2 linked regions of the Homo sapiens genome follow. The protein of the gene in region 1 interacts with the protein of each later gene in a biochemical or structural test. Each region holds a gene or a part of one and is shown in the gene's direction. Other genes may lie near its edges. The genes, in order: ITGB4 and EIF6.

Region 1 (5,860 bases):
TGACATCCCTATCGTGGACGCCCAGAGCGGGGAGGACTACGACAGCTTCCTTATGTACAGCGATGACGTTCTACGCTCTCCATCGGGCAGCCAGAGGCCCAGCGTCTCCGATGACACTGGTGAGTGGAGACCTGGGACCCACAAGAGGACAGTGGGGGTCTTGGGTACAGAGTGAGTCCACTGGGTCCAGAGAGGGCAAAGGGGCCAGCAACTAGAGGACATGGAGGTTAAGGCAGCCTTGGACAAATGCAATGGAGTGCACATCTGTGCATGGGGCACAGGAACCAGTGCCTGGGGGACAGACACACACAGCCTTGTGCAAGCGCACATGAGTTCATGCCCACGGGACCACGAAGAAACACAGCTTCACAAGTTGAAGGTTCACCAGCTGTGCCATGCACACAGGACACTCAGGCCACCCCCCAGGGGCAGGCCTGGCCCAGGAGCCCTGGGCAGCCACCAGGCGGCCACCTGGCAGGGGTAGGGGAGCCAAGGAGACAAGAACACCCCCAACAGCTCTGTCCTTCCTCCTTGATTCCCAGCACAAAGTGCTGCGGAGCCCTTAGCTGGGCCTCCTGAGTGCTCAGTGTCAGCTGTGGCTCCACCTGTGGGACATCAGATGAATCACTCATCCTTTCCATGCCTCACTTTTCTGCTCTGTATAATGGGATACCAATCACACAGTACCATGAGTGGAAAAACCTCTGGGGCACGTATATCTTTTGTATTTTCTTCTGTCCCTGCCGATGCCTCAAGCTGCCCCCGGTGAACACATACTGGCCCCCACGGGGCTCAGCTTGGGCTTAAGGAGCCATTTTGAGGGGTTCAGGTGGAGCGCAGCTGGTGTGACTCTGGAACCCCAGCTCAGCTGCTTCTAACACTACCTGCGAAGCGCTCGGTGGCTTGCGGAACGGTCCCTGGGAGGCGGGCAGGGGCAAGATTCCTCTCTCCATTGTACAAACGGGAAACTGAGTCTCGGAGAGGTTAAGTAAAGCAAGGGAGACCTCACAGCTGGTGACAGAGCCCAGACTTCCCCCAGGTTTCTGGCGGGTCCGGGGGTCTCTCCTCCCCAGCTGTGCCGAGGCTGCACTCGCTCATCTGGAAAGGCTTCAGCCGCGCAAGGGTTTCACCTGCCGCGGCCTTCCCGCTCCGGCCGTGCGCATCTACCCCCGCCCCCAACACACACCCCGGGATCCCGGGAGCTGGAGACGGGCTCCCCTCGCAGAGCCTACGGCCTTCCCCCGCCTGGCCCTGCTCGGCCCGGCGCCCCCCGGCGGTGCCAACGCGGCCCTTCGTTGTTCCCAAGGCTGCGGCTGGAAGTTCGAGCCCCTGCTGGGGGAGGAGCTGGACCTGCGGCGCGTCACGTGGCGGCTGCCCCCGGAGCTCATCCCGCGCCTGTCGGCCAGCAGCGGGCGCTCCTCCGACGCCGAGGCGCCCCACGGGCCCCCGGACGACGGCGGCGCGGGCGGGAAGGGCGGCAGCCTGCCCCGCAGTGCGACACCCGGGCCCCCCGGAGGTGACAGGCTCACCCGCCGCCCCCCGATCCGCGCCCACCCAGCCTCACTCGCGCCTGAGGGCCTGGGGTGGGCGTCTGCGCTGCCTCGGGGGCCCCAGTTTCAGCCAGGCCCGGGCCTTGGCGGCTGGGAGCACAGCTGCTCAGAGGCAGGGCCCAGTGCCAGGGGACGCGTGAGGCAGGCGCTTGGGCCCTTATGGTGCCTGCCTGGCCAGGGGGTGCAAATTCAGAAGTCTGCCCGGGAAGCGGACCCTGGCACCCAAGTAGACCCCTCAGGGGCCTCAAAGGACAGGAGGGAAGGCTTGGGGATCTCCCCAGGGCAGAGCTGACTGCAGACGCAGCAAACCCCCGCCACTGCCAGGGTCAGCAGTGCTCACACCGATAGAGTGGCCGGCCAGAGGATATGGGCTGTGGAAGCCTGGGTGGCCCTTGGGCTCCTGCAGGGACAGAGGGCCTCTGTCCCTAGTGGTTTGAGGGAAACTGGTTGTATTTAAGCAAAAGCCACCCAGAGGGTGGGTGACCAGGAATGTGCAGGGCCCAGCCTGCCCCACGGGGCCCGGGTCTGGGGCAGGCCTGACCAAGGGACCCTGCTCTCCCCCTGCAGAGCACCTGGTGAATGGCCGGATGGACTTTGCCTTCCCGGGCAGCACCAACTCCCTGCACAGGATGACCACGACCAGTGCTGCTGCCTATGGCACCCACCTGAGCCCACACGTGCCCCACCGCGTGCTAAGCACATCCTCCACCCTCACACGGGACTACAACTCACTGACCCGCTCAGAACACTCACACTCGACCACACTGCCCAGGGACTACTCCACCCTCACCTCCGTCTCCTCCCACGGTGAGTGACCTCAGCCAACCCTGCCTCTCCCACTAACCCTTCCTCTCTTCCAGCTCCTGGAGCCTCGGGCTTCTGTCTGCTGTCCCCACCGCCCATTCTCCAACATACACACACGCATGCACACATGCACGCACACACGTGCACACGCATGCACACATGTACACAGACATGCATGCGCACACGTACACACATGCATGCACACTCCCTGCTCCTCTCACTCTTGTTTTGTCCTGCCCTAGGCCTCCCTCCCATCTGGGAACACGGGAGGAGCAGGCTTCCGCTGTCCTGGGCCCTGGGGTCCCGGAGTCGGGCTCAGATGAAAGGGTTCCCCCCTTCCAGGGGCCCACGAGACTCTATAATCCTGGCTGGGAGGCCAGCAGCGCCCTCCTGGGGCCCAGGTAGTACAGGGGTGGCCATCCTGTCTCCACAGCTGTCCTGCTCCATCTGTCATCCAGCCACCATAGCAGCCGCCAGCTGTGCCCACTGCTTCCCCTCCATTCCATCCACAGGACCCCCGCCTGCCCACAGGCGCTAACCACCTGCCCTACCATCAGTGCTGATGCCTAACTCTGCCTCTGCCCTCCCAGGGGGCGGGGCTGGGGCTGGGGCAGGAGAGGGGCCAGGCCAGCTGAGCAGTTGAGGGGGTGGGGCTGGCAGACTCACGGGGCTCACTCTCTTTTGGCACAAGCAGGGCCTGCACCCTGCTGGAGGATGTGCGGTAGGTGCTGGGCAGCCTGGACAGGGTGTTGCAGGGTGAGTGAGTTGTCCAGCCAGCGGTCAGTGTAGACATGCCAGCTGAGGGAGGGAGGTCAGGGGGCAGCACTGTGACTCCCACTGAGACCCTAGCCCCTGCATCTCTGGCTGACTGCGGCCTCCTGTCCCCAGACTCTCGCCTGACTGCTGGTGTGCCCGACACGCCCACCCGCCTGGTGTTCTCTGCCCTGGGGCCCACATCTCTCAGAGTGAGCTGGCAGGAGCCGCGGTGCGAGCGGCCGCTGCAGGGCTACAGTGTGGAGTACCAGCTGCTGAACGGCGGTGAGGCATGGTGGCTGCCAGGCTGCGGGGTGCAGCCCTGCAAGGCCTGGCCCCAGTGTGACACATAGGGTACCTCAGCTGTGTCAGGAACCCACCCAAGTCCCTTGAGCGCTAAAGCCCCCATCCAGCCTGAGAGGGTCTCCCACCCCATTCTCCACCCCACTTCTTTGCCTCCCCTCTTCTGAGGTCTCACCCACCTCCCTGGGCCTCTCTCCTGGTCATTCTCTGCTAGGTTTTGCCTAACAAGGCCCCTTTGGGCTGGGATCCTAGGGCCTCTGCTGGCCTGAGATGCCTTTGGGGGAACAAGGAAGTGGCACTTCCCTGGGCAGGCACATTCAAAGCAGCATGACCAGGATGCAGGATGTTGCCTAAACATGAGTGGGATTACAGGCTCCACTCTTGTATAGTACACAATCTGAACAACCAGCCATACCATACTGTACCCAACCTGTACCCAAACCACAGCTAGTCCTGGGTGGGTGATAACTAGGTCTCGATGGCAGCTTAGGGACGAGGAGGATCAGGCCAGGGGTGGGAGTAACACTGCACTACTGTGTGCCCCCACCTGATCCCCCCAGGTGAGCTGCATCGGCTCAACATCCCCAACCCTGCCCAGACCTCGGTGGTGGTGGAAGACCTCCTGCCCAACCACTCCTACGTGTTCCGCGTGCGGGCCCAGAGCCAGGAAGGCTGGGGCCGAGAGCGTGAGGGTGTCATCACCATTGAATCCCAGGTGCACCCGCAGAGCCCACTGTGTCCCCTGCCAGGTGAGTTGCCTCCCCCAGCCCCAGAGCTGCCCCCATCATGCCCACCACCCACCCACAGGCTGATGCTCTTCCTCTACTGCCCCCAGGCTCCGCCTTCACTTTGAGCACTCCCAGTGCCCCAGGCCCGCTGGTGTTCACTGCCCTGAGCCCAGACTCGCTGCAGCTGAGCTGGGAGCGGCCACGGAGGCCCAATGGGGATATCGTCGGCTACCTGGTGACCTGTGAGATGGCCCAAGGAGGAGGTGCTGCCCACCCCGGGGGCAGGAGTGGCCAGGGGAGGGGTAAAGAGGGGGCCGCAGACGCTGAAGGCATCTTCCCTGCTCAGGGCCAGCCACCGCATTCCGGGTGGATGGAGACAGCCCCGAGAGCCGGCTGACCGTGCCGGGCCTCAGCGAGAACGTGCCCTACAAGTTCAAGGTGCAGGCCAGGACCACTGAGGGCTTCGGGCCAGAGCGCGAGGGCATCATCACCATAGAGTCCCAGGATGGAGGTAGGCACCTGTCCTTTCCTTCACCCCCACCCCTCCTCGGGCCGTGCCTCCTTCTGGCACCACCCTCTGACTGGCCTATCTGCCCACCCCAGGACCCTTCCCGCAGCTGGGCAGCCGTGCCGGGCTCTTCCAGCACCCGCTGCAAAGCGAGTACAGCAGCATCACCACCACCCACACCAGCGCCACCGAGCCCTTCCTAGTGGGTGAGCACTGAGGGCTAGGGGATCCCGGCTCTCCTGGGACAGGGAGCTAGCAGAGGGAGAAGGGCAGACCCCAAGCCAGGTCATCTAATGCCTCCTCCTCCACAGATGGGCTGACCCTGGGGGCCCAGCACCTGGAGGCAGGCGGCTCCCTCACCCGGCATGTGACCCAGGAGTTTGTGAGCCGGACACTGACCACCAGCGGAACCCTTAGCACCCACATGGACCAACAGTTCTTCCAAACTTGACCGCACCCTGCCCCACCCCCGCCACGTCCCACTAGGCGTCCTCCCGACTCCTCTCCCGGAGCCTCCTCAGCTACTCCATCCTTGCACCCCTGGGGGCCCAGCCCACCCGCATGCACAGAGCAGGGGCTAGGTGTCTCCTGGGAGGCATGAAGGGGGCAAGGTCCGTCCTCTGTGGGCCCAAACCTATTTGTAACCAAAGAGCTGGGAGCAGCACAAGGACCCAGCCTTTGTTCTGCACTTAATAAATGGTTTTGCTACTGCTAGGCCCTGCCTTGCCCATTCTTCTGGGGCCTGAGAGGTGCTCCCCTAGGGTAGGGGAGCGGTTCTGACATCCCCCATTCTCTGACACCCAAGCATACACCCACCTCTAGAGGAGGCAGGTACCACATTGGAGGCACAAGTTTATTGAGCACCCGGATATGGAAGATGGCACCGGGCACAGAGCCGTGGGACTGGCCTGCAGGCCCCGCACCCTCACCGTGTGCTGTCCTGGGGGTGCCTCACAAGCACAGCACCTTGGCTCCATCGGCTGCTTGAGAGAGGTAGAAGGTGGCAGTCCCGCCGTAGTGCTCCTGTAAGAGGCGGGCTGGGGGTGAGTGGCAGGGCCCCGGGAAGCTGCCGCTCCTGCCCGCCCAGGCCCTGGTGCCCGCCCACCTGGATGTGCCGCATGGCGTGGGGAGCAGCGGAGGCCTCCAGCAGTGTCACCGTGCAGCCACCGAAGCCACCGCCCGTCATGCGGCTGCCATAAACCCCAGGCACAGCA
Region 2 (16,235 bases), on another chromosome or scaffold:
GACACTTAAAGCGTACCACTTAAAAATGGTTACAATAGCAGATTTTGGCTTGGTGCAGTGGCTCACACCTGTAATCTCAACACTTTGGGAGGCGGAGGCAAGAGCATCGCTTGAGGCCAGGAGTTTGAGAGTAACCTGGGCAACAGAGCAAGACTCCATCTCTAATTCTTTTTTTTTTTTTTTTGAGATGAAGTCTCGCTCTGTCACCCAGGCTGGAGTGCAGTGGCGTAATCTCAGCTCACCTCAACCTCTGCCTCCCAGGTTCAAGCGATTCTCCTGCCTCAGCCTCCCAAGTAGCTGGGATTATGGGCGCCTGCCACCACAGCCACCTACTTTTTGTATTTTTATTAGAGATGGATGGGGTTTCACCATGTTGGTCAGTCTGGTCTTGAACTCCCAACCTCAGGTGATCCGCCCACCTCGGCCTCCCAAAGGGCTGGGATTATAGGCATGAGCCACAGCGTCTGGCCACGAATTATTTTTTAAAGGCAAATTTTATGCGTATTTTACCACAATTAAAAGATACAGAGCCAAAGATATGTACCTGAAGTAGATGTATACACACTGCAAGATAAACAAAACTAACTCAGTGACACGCAAACATGCCTCCCTCCCTCCCGGGAGCACTTCTACCACCCAGATAAGACCCTGGTTGGTCCTCCCCTTCAAACAAATCTGGAGATAAGGCCCTAATGATGGCCCTGCCACCTCGGCTGCCCCCACAGCTCATCACCCTCCCACGGTCTGGCTTTGTTTACTCAACCTTCTGCCCCTCTTGCAGCCTCCTCACCCCCATGGAAGGGCCTCCTTGGAGTGCCCGGTGCTCCTGCACCTGGGATGGGATGGAGTAGGCCATAACTCCTGACCTGTGGCTCCCCCATGCTCCCCCAGGCCCTTCACTTATAGGGTCCTTGAAGACACAGCCCTAGCCCCATTCACCTTTGGTCCTAGGGCTCAGCTCAACTCCGGAACCTCTAAATCCCACCCAGCTCCCTCCCACTATATGTGTGTCAAGTTCTTTGGACACAGAAGACCCTGTGTTCCGGACATGATCGCAGACCAGATAAACCAAGTGCGCTTAGTGCTAAACAGGCTGCGAGGCACGGCTTTAGGTCTTCTGCGCTTCCCGCCATCCTCGCTGGACCTCATGCCTCCGTGGAAAGGTGGTGACCGCTTCTGCCTAGCCTGGCTCCCCAGCTGCAGCTGTCACCTGCTCACCCCCTTCCCCAGAGCAAAGCTGCTCACCATCCTCCGAAGGACACACGGTACATGCTCCAGGACTTTAATCTTTGTTGGGGCAGAGGTCAGAAATCTACCTGCCCTGTTTGCCTCCTGACCTTGCAGTGTGTCCGCCCATTCTCTGAAACAACCTTCCAACCATTTTCATACTCAGCCCTGGAGGAGGGGAAGAAGGCTGGGGTCTGGCCACCACCAGGCCAAGAACATCCCTGGAGTTAAGGGTGTTGCAAGCACAGCCATCTGGAACAGCATGTCTCAGGGGTGGGCCTTAGCCCACTGCCCACAGTGCACTGGGCACTTGTTTAAAAACTCAGGAATTTGAGGTTACAGTAAGCTATGATCACATCACTGCTCTCTCTAGCCTGGGTGACAGAGCAAGATCATGTCTCAATTAAAAAAGAAAAATGGCCAGGTGTGGCGGCTCACACCTGTAATCCCAGCACTTTGGGAGGCTGAGACAGGAGGATTGCTTGAGGCCAGGAGTTCAAGATCAGCCTGGGCAACATAGTGAGATCCCATCTCTAAAAAAATTTTAAAAGTAGCCGAGCATGGTAACATGCACCTGTAATCCCAGCTACTCAGGAGGCTGAGGTGGGAAGATCGCTCGAGTCCAGAGAAACTGAGGCACAGCTGTAGTGAGCTGTGATTGCGCCACTGCCCTCCAGACTGGGTGACAGAGCAAGACCCTATCTCAAAAAGAAAAAGAAAAAAGACAAGCTCCAGAAGCCTACGGACACCTTCTGGATGAGAATTTCCAGGAGGGTGGGGCCCGGGGATCTGCATTTCATCACCTCTCACCACCCCTGGGGTCAGGGTGAGAGCCACTGCTCTAGGTTCTTGAAGGACAGCTCCGAGCCGGGGTGGGAGAGAGCCAGGGGGCTGTGAGCACCACAGTTAAGATGATGGAGAGTGGCAGGACGATTATGGGAGCAAAAAGAGGGCTGGCTGGGGGACAGACCAGCGTTGATGTCCTTGGATATTCCATGTGACAGTCGTTCAGCTCTCAGGGCCTTGCAGACTTGAGCCAGGGCACGTGCTATCCACTGTGGTATGTGTTGTGGGGGTCATGGCCGGTCTCTACATCGGCGTTTGGGTGAAGAGTTTATGCAAGTGGATGTGATTACAATGTGTGGTCGGTCTGTGTCAGCCCACACTCCATGTCTGTGTATCGGTCAGTTGTCAGTGTGTCCATCTGCATGGGTGTTCATGTCTTTTCCTGGGTGTCTTGAGTCGCTCACCCACCTGCAGTGTGTGTGCGTGTGCGTGTGAGTGTGTGTTCCTGAGTCGCCTGGGCCCCTCTTGGCTGTAATTCAACCTCTGTGGGTCCCGGGAAGTCAGCATTTGGAGACTTGCTGGGAGCCTGGTGGGGATGGGGCGGCGTTGCTGGGAGGAAGAGAGGGAGGCAGGAGTGTGCACCGAGGGCCTGGCACTGCCGCTTCCCTGGGCAGGCGAGTCCCAACACAGGCAGACAGGTGGGGCTGACCTGACAGGTTCCAGAGGCCAGGGGCAATAGGGTGGAGCGTGGCTCTGATTTAGGGTGGCAACAGTTTGGGGGCCCTGCCACACACACAGCGAGCGGGCGGGCAGAAGGCGGTTCTGCTGGTCTCCTCTTCCTGCTGCAGCCAGCCCAGCGTGCGGGCCATGGGCCCTGCCGGCGGGTGAGGCAGCCGCGTGGCAGGCATGTTCGGAGGCCCGGGGCCTGGGGTCCTGGGAGCCCAGGGCATGGCGGGACCCCTGCGGGGCCGGGTGGAAGAGCTGAAGCTGCCGTGGTGGCGGGAGAGCTCACCGCTGGTGCTGCGGCACAGCGAGGCGGCTCGGCTGGCGGCCGACGCCCTCCTGGAGCGGGGTGAGGCTGCCTACCTGCGGGTCATCTCCGAGGAGCGGGAGCTGCCCTTCCTGAGCGCCCTGGATGTGGACTACATGACCAGCCATGTGCGCGGGGGCCCTGAGCTCAGCGAGGCTCAGGGGCAGGAGGCCTCCGGGCCAGACCGCCTCAGCCTGCTCTCTGAAGTCACCTCAGGGACTTACTTCCCCATGGCCTCTGACATAGACCCCCCAGACCTGGACCTGGGCTGGCCCGAGGTGCCACAGGCCACAGGCTTCAGCCCCACCCAGGCTGTGGTCCACTTCCAGAGGGACAAGGCCAAGAACATCAAGGACCTGCTGCGCTTCCTTTTCAGCCAGGCCCACACGGTAAGGGCCTCATCTCTCCATCACTCATCTCACAGAGGAGGAAACTGAGGTCCAGAGAGGGAAGGGACCAGCCCAAGGCCACACAGCGACTTAGGGGCAGAATGAGGACCAGCACCTCTGGCACTATTAGATTGCAAACTCCTAGAAGGGGGACATCCCATATTTACCTTGGCAACTGCTTGGTACCCAGGAATAGTATGGATGAGCATAGAACAGGGCATGGGTGTCAGGGACTCCACAATCCCCTGAAATGCACACGAAGTGGTGCAGGTTGGAGGGAGGAGTCCTCGCTGCATCTTTACCTTGGAAGATGCTCCACTGCCTTAAATCAGATTCTCAAAAAGTTTTATGATCCCCACACTAAGAACTCCAACCTTGGGGAACATCTGAGTCACCTCCTTCACTTATAGAAGAAGAAACTGAGGCCAGAGAGGGGCTTGGGACTTGCCCAGGGAGGTCCATATGGTGACATAGAGCTCAGGGCTTGGGGAGACAGGGGCTCTCTGACTTGGGTCCTGGGGACCAGTCCGGCCCTCCTTGCTGGCTCAGGTCCCTAGTTGCCCCCTACCCTCCTGCACCACATCTGCAGCTGGGCCTGAAGCAGGGGAAGGGGCCAGCGTGTGGGCCTCTTTGGCGTGGCCTTGAGGGCTGGGCTTTGGAACCAAGGAGGAAGGAGGAGAGGAGGCTGCTGGGCTCAGTGATGGGGAGCGGGAGCTCAGGAGAAAGAGAATTGGGAGGGCAGGTAGGGGTGGTCAGCACCCAGAAAGGCTCTGGCCACACACGAGCACAGCTTCCCTTCTGAAGCCCTGGCCTCCGACTCCAGGGGAATGGACGAGATGATCCCTGGCAGGGTTTGAGGGAGAGTTAGGCTCCTGCTGCAGAGATGGGAAGCCAGGATGCTGGGATCCCACCGGTACTTCCAGAGCCTCCCTGGCAAGCCTTCCTGTGCCCCAGGCAGGGGACGGCCAGGCCTGATTGGCATCAGGAATGGGGTTATTAGTGAGGCTGCTGCTGTCGTCCTCCTCACCCCTGCCTCTTTGATCTTCCTGCCTGTCCTTGTTCCCCCACCCTGGCCAGGCCTGTGCTGTGAACTAGGGCATCCCCCAGTGCCTCGCCTTCTCAGCCCCCATTTAGACCCCTCTATCCTGGGTCAGGAGCCAGGTTCGTGCACTGGGCTGTCATGACTCCTAGTGACCTTGGGAAATGCTGCGTTGCCCTGCAGCCCAATGTTTATAGAGCTCTGTTATGTCTTGAGCATTTTCACATTTAATTCCCTGTAACTCTGAGACATGGCTATCATTATCTCCATTTAACAGATGAGGAAGGTGAGGCTTCCAGAGGTGAAGGGACTCACCCAAAGCTGTGTCACCAGGAAGTGATAGAGTCCAGGTTTGAACCCAGTTCTTTCTGACTCCAGAGCTGGAGTGCTATGCTCTGTACCTCCTGCCTCTCGGCCCTGCCTGGGAGAGAAGACTCTCATAGCAGATATATGCCATGGGAAGAAAGGCCAGCTGGGGGCTGGGAGGTGCCAAGAAGGTTTCAGGGGCCTCTTTGAGGCAGCCCTTTATATGGGATGGAGGCACAAGCCCCAGCCCAGCCCTCAACTGAGCAGAAAACTTGGATCCATTTGGCATGGGTGCAAGTAAGGGAGTCTGCAGTGTAAGGGGTCACACCAGACCTCTGTGGCTTCACAGGGAAACTGAGGCAGGACTGGGAAAGGGCAGCGAAGACCCCAGTAAGTGGCTTGTAGCTGTGACCCTGGAGAAGGGAGCCTCAGACAGACAGTCCCTGGGTCAGAGCTGGGCTGGAGTTAGTCGGGGGAGTGCCAGGAACTTGCCTGGGAATTGGGGTCTGGGTTCTCCTTCTCACTGCTGTCCCATCTGGGGCTCAGTGCAGAGGGAGTGTTGGACTAGCACAGCTGATCCACAGTCATCTTTGAGAATCTGATGATGGATAAACACTCGGTGCACAGAAGGATGCACACAAATGCTTTCAAACAGCTAGGGGTTCAAGACAGTCAAATCTGGGCTGGGATTTGACTGTAATCCCAGTGCTTTGGGAGGCTGAGGTGGGAGGATCGCTTGAGGCCAGGGGTTCAAGACCAGCTTGTGAGAACCCCATCTCTACAAAAAATTAGAATTAAAAAAAAACTAGCGACTGGGCGTGGTGGCTCACGCCTGTAATCACAGCACTTTGGGAGTCCAAGGCAGGCAGATCACAAGGTCAGGAGTTTGAGACCAGCCTGGCCAACATGGTGAAACTCCATCTCTATTAAAAATACAGATTAGCTGGGCATGGTGGTGGATGCCTGAAATTCCAGCTACTTGAGAGGCTGAGACACGAGAATCGCTTGAACCCAGAAGGCAGAGGTTGCAGTGAGCCGAGATCACGCCACTACACTCCAGCCTGGGCAACAGAGTGAGACTCTGTCTCAAAAAAAAAAAAGAAAAGAAAATTAGCCAGGCATAGTGGCACATGCCTATAATACCAGCTACTTGGGAGGCTGAGTTGGGAGGAGATTGCTTGAGCCTGGGAGTTCTAGGCAGAAGAGAGCTATGATCACGCCACTGCACTGCAGCCTGGGCAACAGAGTGAGACAGACACTGACTCTTAAAAAAAAGAAGACAGTCAAATCTGCCTGTGCCCAAGTTAAGAAGCCCTGGGCTAGGTCACTGCTAAGTGCCCTTCCTGTTCACTTGCTCTTGAAGGCTCTGGCCTCCTGATTTTCAGTCCAGTACTCTTTTCCCGGCGCCCAGTTTCCTGCCCCAGGTTTGGCTGGATGTGGGGAGTGCCCTGGGCAGCGCTGAGCTTTCGTGTGCCTCCCCCCACCCAGGTGGTGGCTGTGGTGATGGACATATTCACTGACATGGAGCTTCTGTGTGACCTCATGGAGGCCTCAAGCCGGCGTGGTGTCCCTGTGTACCTGCTCCTTGCCCAGGAGCACCTGAGGCACTTCCTGGAGATGTGCTACAAGATGGACCTCAATGGGGAGCACCTGCCGGTCAGTGAGGACCAGGGGCAGTAACCAGGGGTGTGGGCGGGGAGTCAGGGAGGGCAGGGGAGCCAGTGGGTGGCCAGTCAGCACTGGGGGGCACTGGGAGTGGGGGGTGGGTTCCCTTAGCTGTCTGGGGTTAGAGACCCCATGGGGCAGAGACATGGCTTGAGCCTCACTCTCTCAAGGTCACCCCCAACCTACTTCCACCTAGAACATGCGTGTGCGGAGCACGTGTGGGGACACATACTGCAGCAAGGCTGGCCGCCGCTTCACGGGGCAGGCCCTGGAGAAGTTCGTCCTCATTGACTGTGAGCAAGTGGTGGCGGGCAGTTACAGGTGAGCAGGCACGAGGAGGCAAGGGGGGCCTGGGGCTGCATCACTGGCTGGCAGCTCTGAGCTTCCCTCCACTCATCCTTTCCTTCGGACACGGGCTGAGTACCTGCCATGTGCCAGGCATCATGCCAGGCTCAGGGGAGGGTGTCGGGGGCATCGGCCCTGGAGGAGCTCACTCTAGGGGAATGATTACTTTAATACCCTTGGTATAGAAAATGACTATGCCCATTGGAACTGGAGTGACTTCAGGGAACCTCCCCCAAGTCCATTTGACAGATGGGGAAGTTGGGGCCTCCATGAGGTCACACACTAAGCAGGGCTAGGGCAAGCACAGACTCTGGAGTTGGAGCTCTGCCCCTCGCTGTGAGCCCTCGTGGTGGTGGGGTTTGGGTCTAGCGTGCTGGACCAGGTATGCACCCCTGGCTGTGACTCCTGCCGACCCCCAGGATCCTGCACTTTGCCTCCTGACCCCCCTGTCCCTCTGCCCCCAGCTTCACCTGGCTTTGCAGCCAGGCCCACACTAGCATGGTGCTGCAGCTGAGGGGCCGCATCGTGGAAGACTTTGACCGGGAGTTCCGCTGTCTGTACGCTGAGTCGCAGCCTGTGGAGGGCTTCTGTGGCGGTGAGGACCCGCTGTCTCCCCGGGCACTGCGTCCTCCCCCTGTGGCCCTAGCCTTCAGGCCTGATGTCCCAAGCCCCACGTCGTCCCTGCCCTCCAGCACCAGCCTCAGCAGCATCAAGCAGTCACCGCTTATGGGTCGCTCCTCCTACCTCGCTCTACCAGGAGGTGGTGATTGCAGTGATACGGGTGTGGTGTCCTCGTCCCTGGGTCCTGCCCGCCGTGAGGCCAGTGGCCAGCCCTCCCTACATCGCCAACTGTCAGACCCTAACCACGGCTCCCCTCCTGGGCTCTATAGGGCCAATCTCGGCAAGCTAGGGGCATACCCATGGTCCCAGTCCTCCCCTGCCCTCAACCATAATAGTACCAGCCCCTTAACCTTGGCAGTGGGGTCACCTCTGCTTCCTCGCTCCCGGCCCCTCCTCCAGTTCCATCGGGGTGCCCCAGCTCTGTCCCGGTTCCCAGAGAATGGGCTCCCAGGAAGCCAAGAGCCCAGCCCCCTGCGGGGTCGATGGGTACCTGGCACAACCCTGGAGACAGTGGAGGAGAAGGAGAAGAAGGCATCTCCAAGTCAGAGCCGTGGCCAGCTGGATCTCCTTGTCCCCTTCCCCAGAGCCCGAGAAGTGGGAGACCCTGACTCTGGGGTTACCCCCAACTCAGGCCCCCTTCGGCCTGGCGAGCAGGCCCCAGAGGACAGGAGGTTGTCCCCAAGCCAGGCCGACAGCCAGCTGGATCTCCTGTCCCGAGCCCTGGGTACTGGGGGTGCCCCTGAGTTGGGTTCCCTCAGACCTGGTGATCGGGCCCTGGAGGACAGGAGGCTGTCCCTAAACCAAAGCCGTGGCCAATCAGACCTCCTGATGCAGTACCCCAAGGCCCAGGGTTCCAGAGTGCCCCTTGAAACCAACTCCTCAGCCAGACCTGCCAGACGGGCACCAGATGAGCGGCGGCAGACCCTGGGGCACAGCCAGCTGGACCTCATCACAAAGTTCGGCCCATTCCGTGGTGAGGGGCCTGGGCCCAATGGTCTCCCGATATCAAGCCCTGCTCGCACGGCTGGAGCTGGGTCTGGGGATGAGAAACGGCTAACCCTGGGCCACAGCAAGCTGGACCTCATCACCAAGTATCATCAGTTGCACGGGGCCAGGCAGGGAACTGAGCCTGGGGGTCCCAAGGGTGGCCATCTCAATGGTGGTAACAGTGACCTGGTCAGGGATGAGAAACGGCTGACCCTGGGTCACAGCAAACTGGACCTCATCACTAAGTACAACAAGTCCAAGTTCAAGCAGCTCCGAAGCCGCTTTGAGTCCTAGCCAAAGGACTGGCATCGGGGGTGCACTGGCAAGGGCAGGCCCCTCCTCTGTCCACCGAGACTCTGGACTTGCTCAGGTCCCAGACTGGGGAAGGGAGGTGTCTAGAAACCCAGGTCAGACACACTCTCTGGGCTCAAGATTCTTGTGTACACACACACACACACACACACACACACACACCCTAACTAGTATCTTCTTGAATCTAGGCTGTGTTTCCAGCCCTGTGCTGGGCCTGTAGAGCTGACAGGTGGGTCACACTCAGACCTGGGGACAGAGGTGAAATGCACAAGCTGCTGGAGAAGGGGTCAGAGCCATATCAAGTTAAAGGTTAACCAGTTACAGAGGGTGTTAGAAAACAAAGGGCAGAGAGTCCTGGAGAAGGTGGAGTAGTCAGAAAACTTTCTTAGAGGAGATGGAGGTGGCCTTTGAGCCAGGCCCTGAAGGATGGGGAGGTTTTGGACAGAGGGAGGAGAGAGTTAGAAAAATTTTTGGTAGAGAGAATCAGGTGAAAGAGATGCCCTAAAGAGGACTGAGTGGGTCTGAGGTGAATGAGTGAGGAAGAGCAGAGTATGTGGATACCCGGAAACACACACACACACACATCATCATTATCATCATCATCATTGTCGTCGTCATCATCTTGCTGAGTCATCATCATCATCATCATCATTGTCGTCGTCATCATCTTGCTGAGTGTCTCTTGAAGTACAGGCTGTGACAGGTTGTGGGCCATTTTCCTGAACTCACCACTTACCCGGGATAGTAAACATGATACACATCAATAAAGGCAGACTTTATTGTGAATCACAGCGCCTGGTGTATCCTGAACTTTGAGGAGTTATGGGAGGGACACGTTGGGGGAATGGGAAGGGCACCATTCAGGCCAATTATGGGGAAACCCCTGGAGGAGGGTGAATGCCGAAGGAGGAATTGGGGGAGTCCAGGGGCTCCAAGTTACCACTGTGACATTTTGAGAGAACCCGGGGCTTTTGCAGATTCTACAAAATGTGGGCCAAGTTCATCCTGTCCAAGTGTGCAGCAGGGCCCTTGGCCCCCATCACTATCCTGGGGACAGAAGTTGGCTGCTGAGTGAGTGATAGAGGCCGTGCGAGAGGCACATCGTGGAAGCCAACCAGCACCCACATCCTTGCCCACCCTGGACCCCTTTCCAGCCTTTTCCTGAGCCCCTGCTTCCTCAGTCCTCCCCTCTCTCCAGCACCTGCAGCCTGGCTGCCTTTCCGTCTCTGGCTGCGCTCTTTCTCCAGCCTCGGTCTGGCCGCACTTCTGCCTCCTGGAACTCTCTCCATGGGTAGCCTCTTCTAGTCCACCCGTCTTCAGCCCCTCATCTCATTCGTCAGCACTCCACTCCCCTGCTGGGCTCCAGACATGGACTTCTGTCCCTCAAGGCACAGCTGGACTCATCCCTTTCCCCAAACCTGCCCTTCCTCCGGCTTCATTTCCATCAATACCTCCATCATCAACCCTTCCGCGAGACACTCCTGGCCCCTCCTCTCCCTCATGCCTCACAACCGACCAGCCGGAGGTCTAGGTCGATGACAGCTCCTAAAAAGCTCCTGAATGAATAATGAATGAATGAACGCGAGCAGGCTAGGCGTGGGGCCAGGCGGGGTCGCGCCCAGACCGCTCGCGACCATAGAGTCCGCCGGAGGCCGGAGGTAGAGGGGCTGGATGCGTGGCGGGGAGCGCCGGGCTCTCCCGGAAGTCTCCCTGGACGGAAGTGGAAACGGAAACCTTTTTAGGGAGTCCAAGGTACAGTCGCCGCGTGCGGAGCTTGTTACTGGTTACTTGGTAAGCTGGTGTGAGGGGAACCTGGGAGGGTCAGCTCCGGTCCTGGGTCGGGAGGGGTGGGGGCCAGAGGATTCAGGGCCGGAGGTTCTGGTGGGGGCCCAGTGGGCGGGACCCGAGGACGGAGGGGCCGGGAGGCCGAGAGGGGCGGGGTCGCGGCGGGGCCTGAGGGACGGAGGCCGGGATACTTGGGAAAGGATCCGCCGGCCTTGAACTCCCGCCTCCGCCGCCCCTAGGCCTCATGGCGGTCCGAGCTTCGTTCGAGAACAACTGTGAGATCGGCTGCTTTGCCAAGCTCACCAACACCTACTGTCTGGTAGCGATCGGAGGCTCAGAGAACTTCTACAGGTGCGGCGGGAGCCCCGGGGCTTACGGTGGCGGGGAGGCGTGCGCAGGAGTCAAGAGCTCCGGCAGTGGGAGGGTGCCGGCCCCTCTGCCCCGCCACCACCGAGTCCATGTCCCTACAGTGTGTTCGAGGGCGAGCTCTCCGATACCATCCCCGTGGTGCACGCGTCTATCGCCGGCTGCCGCATCATCGGGCGCATGTGTGTGGGTAAGGCAGGTGGAGGACGCCGAGGGAGGGAGTGGTCTCCAAGCACCATTAATTACACCCCCGGAGGGAACCCGGAGTGACCTAGGGATTCCCAGGGTATCATCTGTTATCTCTGGGCACTATAGAATCTCTCAGGCCAAGCGTCAGGAGATCGGGGCAACCCTCTAGCAAAGGCTGCTGGATAATAGTAATAACAAATAATGTAAAGTGCTTTCACTCCTGTTCTCATTCCTTCGTCACAAAGACACTAGAAGGTAGGAGTTACTGGCCTAACTTGACTGATGAGGAAGTTGAGACTTGACCTAAGTGACTCAGTAAGTTCCACACCTAGTTCCTAGTGTTGGAGAAGGATTTTTCTCTTTTTTTTTTTTTTTTGAGGCCAGATTTTTGCTCTTTCGCCCAGGCTGGAGTGCAGTGGCAAGATCACAGCTGTCTGCATCCTCAACTTCTTAGGCTCAAGTGATCCTCCCACCTCAGCCTACCAGGTAGCTAGGGCCACAGGCACGTGCCACCACACCTGGCTAATTTTTACATTTTTGGTAGAGACGCGGCCTCCCTGTGTTGCCCAGCCTGGCCTTGATCTCCTGGGCTCAAGTGATCTTCTTACCTTGGTCTCTTAAAGTGTTGGGATTATAGGCGAGAGCCACTATACCCAGCCGAGGATTTGTATCTCATCTCTCCCTGCCACTGACTGGGCAAGGTGCTTTCTCTTTCTAAGCATCCATTTCTGTCTCTGTAAAGATTAGCTAAGATATGCGGTCTTCCTGCTCAGTTACGTTGGAATCTTAAATTCCCTTTACCACATCTCTACCCTACCTTCCTACCTGTCAGCACTGTTAATTCTGGTCGTTGGTCCTTTCCTTTTTATTATTATTATTATTTTTTTTTGAGATGGAGTTTTCGCTCTTGTTGCCCAGGCTGGAGTGCAATGGCACGATCTTGGCTCACTGCAACACTCTCTTCAAGTGATTCTCCTGCCTCAGCCTCCCAAGTAGCTGGGATTACAGGCGCATCCCGCCACACCCGGCTAATTTTTTTGTATTTTTAGTAGAGATGGAGTTTCACCATGTTGGCCAGGCTGGTCTTGAACTCCTGACCTCAGGTGATCCTCCCACCTCGGCCTCCCAAAGTGCTGGGATTACAGGCGTGAGCCACTGCGCCCGGCCGGTCCTTTCATTAAGCTGGATCTGTCTTCCATTACTGCTGCCCATTGTTTCTTAGTTCTGCTCATTGAGGTCACTTTTAGAAGTCTGTTTATTTTATTTTTTTACTTTTACTTTAATTTTTAAAAATCTTAAGCCTGCTTGGGAGGTCGAGGCAGGTGGATCACCTGAGGTCAGCAGTTCGAGACTAACCTGACCAACATGGAGAAACCCCGTCTCTACTAAAAATACAGAAATTAGCCGGGTGTGGTGGCGCATACCTATAATCCCAGCTACTTGGGAGGCTGAGGCGGGAGAATTGCTTGAACCCTGGAGGTGGAGCTCACCCTGCGGTGAGCTGAGATTGTGCCATTGCATTTCAGCCTGGGCAATAAGAGTGAAACTGTGTCTCAAAAAAAAACAAAAAACAAAAAACAACAACAACAAAAACTTAAGCCTAGTGACCTCAAAGTATTTTCCTATTCAGTTAAAATACTCTGATCTCTAACCATGCCCTTAGGACTTGAAGCAAGTTCTGACAACAAGGGAGATTTTAGCTTAGTCCTTGTGTATTTTATGATGGGAGTGACCTGGAATTCAGAAATTGATTGGCGTGTATTTGTAGATTGTTCATTCTTGTTGCTGTATGGTGTGTTTTGTGTAAGTATATCACAACGTATTCATCCATTCCATCGACAGTGCATTTGGGCAGTTTTCACTTTGGTCTGTTAGGAATAGTGCTGCTGGCCGGGCATGGTGGCTCACGCCTGTAATCCCAGCACTCTGGGAGGCCGAGGCGGGCGGATCACGAGGTCGGGAGATCGAGACCATCCTGGTTAACACGGTGAAACCCCGTGTCTACTAAAAATACAAAAAAATTAGCCAGGTGTGGTGGCGGGTGCCTGTAGTCCCAGCTACTTGGGAGGTTGAGGCAGGAGAATGGTGTGAACCGGGGAGGTAGAACTTGCAGTGAGCCGAGATTGTGCCACTGCACTCCAGCCTGGGCAACAGAACAAGACTCCGTCTCAAAAAAAAAAAAAAAAGTAATAGTGCTGCTATGTTTTTTTAGTGAACACATGTACATATTTCTACTGGGTATATGATACCTAAGAGTGGCATGGCAGAGTCACAGGTTATGTGACTATTTAGTAGTAGTTGCAGATGATGCCAGATAATTATCTAAAGTGATTGACCAACTTACACTCCTGTCTCAGTATGAGAGTTCAGTTGCTCCATATATCTTTGCCAACACTTGGAATTGATGACTTGTAAAAATTTTAGTCATTCTGGCTGGGGGCAGTGGCTCACACCTGTAATCGTAGCACTTTGGGAGGTCGAGGTGGGCGGATCACCTGAGGTTAGGAGTTCGAGACCAGCCTGGCCAACATAGTGAGACCCCATCTCTACAAAATCACAAAAAGTTAGCCAGGTGTGGTGGCACGCACTTGTAATTCCAGCTACTCAGGAGGCCGAAGCAGGAGAATCACCTGAACCCAGGATGCAGAAGTTGCAGTGAGCTGAGATCGCACCACTGCGCTCCAGCCTGGGTGACAGAGTGAGACTCTGCCTTAAAAAATAATAATCTAGCCATTCTGCTATGTGTGTAGTGTTAGCTCAGTTTTTTTTGTTTTTTTGTTTTTTTTTTTTGGAGACGGAGTTTCGCTCTGTCACCCAGGTTGGAGTGCAGTGGCGCGATCTCGGCTCACTGCAAGCTCCGCCTCCCGGGTTCACGCCATTCTCCTGCCTCAGCCTCCCGAGTAGCTGGGACTACAGGCGCCCGCCACCACGCCTGGCTAATTTTTTGTATTTTTAGTAGAGACGGGGTTTCACCGTGTTAGCCAGGATGATCTCGATCTCGATCTCCTGACCTTGTGATCTGCCCACCTCAGCCTCCCAAAGTGCTGGGATTACAGGCGTGAGCCAACACGCCCGGCAGCTCAGTTTTTAAGTAGCAAAATATACAGCTAATGCCAAGAGCTCAGCTTCCCTCCCAGTTGGTGATGGTGAAGTAGGCAGGATTTATTGGGATTCCTGGGTGGTCTCTGGCCTGCCCTGGGTGTTTTCCAGATCAGTGGGTTGGAGGGCTGGGCTCTGGGCCTAAAGCTTTCCTGGGAAAGCTGATTGGGCTGGGCTGAGTGGTATCCTCAGCCCCTAGGGCTCAGCAGGCATCTTGTGTATTCACCCTCTAATTTGGGTTTCTCCAGGGAACAGGCACGGTCTCCTGGTACCCAACAATACCACCGACCAGGAGCTGCAACACATTCGCAACAGCCTCCCAGACACAGTGCAGATTAGGCGGGTGGAGGAGCGGCTCTCAGCCTTGGGCAATGTCACCACCTGCAATGACTACGTGGCCTTGGTCCACCCAGACTTGGACAGGGTGAGGCAGCCCAACTTGACCCAAGAGTCACAGGGCCATCCTAGTCAGTGGTTAGCCACTGTTCTTTCCCAACAGGCAGCAATTAGGGGTCTCTCCTGTGGTTTTTCTATATGGGCTCTTGAGTTTCAGGTACTCATTGGAATAGTGATAACAGAGGCCTTATCAAGTGTCAGAAAGAAGCTGGGGAGGGTATGAATCCTTCATGATTGGGGAGATTGAACCATCCAGTCCTGCATCCTGGGCCAGGATAGGTGATTGACTGTTGAACTTTTGACTGTGGGTGAGAGGGGAAAGAAGTGATATTGAGACCAGCCTCCAGCTGTTCAGGGCATGCATGAATATTAGGGGCTTCACAGCTGCCCTTGACTCTGCTCTAAGCTGTACTTCCTCCTTTCTCTGGGTGAGGCTTTCATATGAGGTACAGAGGAGAAATGAGGGGCTCAGGGAGCCAAGGCCTGGATGCTTCTGGGCATGGAGAACCTTGGTTCTGGGGCTGTAAGTTCTGAGCCCTGAACACAATATCTTTGATTGACAGGAGACAGAAGAAATTCTGGCAGATGTGCTCAAGGTGGAAGTCTTCAGACAGACAGTGGCCGACCAGGTGCTAGTAGGAAGCTACTGTGTCTTCAGCAATCAGGGAGGGCTGGTGCATCCCAAGACTTCAATTGAAGACCAGGATGAGCTGTCCTCTCTTCTTCAAGTCCCCCTTGTGGTAAGCATTCCTGTCCTCTGAACCCCGTCTCCCGAGGCAGATCCTTTTGCCTAGTGTTTGGGAGTCTGGGTCATTACCTGCCACAGTTTGGGACTGGGGCTGCAGGTCAGGGAGGAGCAGGGTTTGGGGAGAGTCTTCATTGAGGAGGGAGAGAATTTGGTGCCGTGACTCACATTGAGCCCATCCCTTGGCAGGCGGGGACTGTGAACCGAGGCAGTGAGGTGATTGCTGCTGGGATGGTGGTGAATGACTGGTGTGCCTTCTGTGGCCTGGACACAACCAGCACAGAGCTGTCAGTGGTGGAGAGTGTCTTCAAGCTGAATGAAGCCCAGCCTAGCACCATTGCCACCAGCATGCGGGATTCCCTCATTGACAGGTACCTGGGGCCTCTCCTTTCTTCTGCTCAGGGTTGGGGGTTAACTTGCATTTTGAGAGTATGGGGAAAAGATGTCATCTAGAATGGGAGCCTACCAGTTTGTTCTGGTAGCTTCTCGAGTGTGAGAGCATATCTGTACACTGCTGAGCAGATAAGAGCCAGCATATTCAAAAAATATTTCTTGAGCATCTGCTAATCCTCATCTTTGTGGTTTTTCAGGGCTAGGATACTAGAGCAGTAGCTGCTTGAGCAGCTTGTCAGAGCTGGTCCCGGGATGAGGGCTGAGGCAGGCACCTCACTTGAGAGTGAGGTGGGCTCTGTGAAACAGCTACTGACCGTGCGCTTTCCTTTCTCTTCAGCCTCACCTGAGTCACCTTCCAAGTTGTTCCATGGGCTCCTGGCTCTGGACTGTGGCCAACCTTCTCCACATTCCGCCCAATCTGTACCGGATGCTGGCAGGGAGGTGGCAGAGAGCTCACTGGGACTGAGGGGCTGGGCACCCAACCCTTTTCCACCTGTGCTTATCGCCTGGATCTATCATTACTGCAAAAACCTGCTCTGTTGTGCTGGCTGGCAG

What was found.
Region 2: the proteins of ITGB4 (region 1) and EIF6 form a complex in vitro, tested with the Homo sapiens proteins (one study listed by BioGRID).

What each region holds. Positions count from the first base shown.
Region 1 is NC_000017.11:75,752,459-75,758,318, forward strand, and holds the end of ITGB4 (integrin beta-4 isoform 1 precursor), read left to right. Parts: coding exon 1-119; intron 120-1,306; coding exon 1,307-1,516; intron 1,517-2,117; coding exon 2,118-2,357; intron 2,358-2,596; coding exon of another isoform or gene 2,597-2,755; intron 2,756-3,242; coding exon 3,243-3,392; intron 3,393-3,970; coding exon 3,971-4,159; intron 4,160-4,245; coding exon 4,246-4,401; intron 4,402-4,484; coding exon 4,485-4,649; intron 4,650-4,741; coding exon 4,742-4,852; coding exon of another isoform or gene 4,853-4,863; exon of another isoform or gene 4,864-4,957; coding exon 4,958-5,097; 3' UTR 5,098-5,360; downstream 5,361-5,860. Other genes in the region: GALK1 (galactokinase), read right to left, coding at 5,598-5,669, 5,752-5,860. UniProt on the Homo sapiens protein: Integrin alpha-6/beta-4 is a receptor for laminin. Plays a critical structural role in the hemidesmosome of epithelial cells. Is required for the regulation of keratinocyte polarity and motility.
Region 2 is NC_000020.11:35,278,989-35,295,223, reverse strand, and holds the start of EIF6 (eukaryotic translation initiation factor 6), read left to right. Parts: upstream 1-10,451; 5' UTR 10,452-10,498; intron 10,499-10,506; exon of another isoform or gene 10,507-10,731; 5' UTR 10,732-10,736; coding exon 10,737-10,843; coding exon of another isoform or gene 10,844-10,962; coding exon 10,963-11,048; intron 11,049-14,394; coding exon 14,395-14,570; intron 14,571-15,105; coding exon 15,106-15,282; intron 15,283-15,476; coding exon 15,477-15,658; intron 15,659-16,017; coding exon 16,018-16,027; 3' UTR 16,028-16,235. Other genes in the region: protein FAM83C, read left to right, coding at 2,920-3,432, 6,266-6,433, 6,639-6,763, 7,252-8,689. UniProt on the Homo sapiens protein: Binds to the 60S ribosomal subunit and prevents its association with the 40S ribosomal subunit to form the 80S initiation complex in the cytoplasm. Behaves as a stimulatory translation initiation factor downstream insulin/growth factors.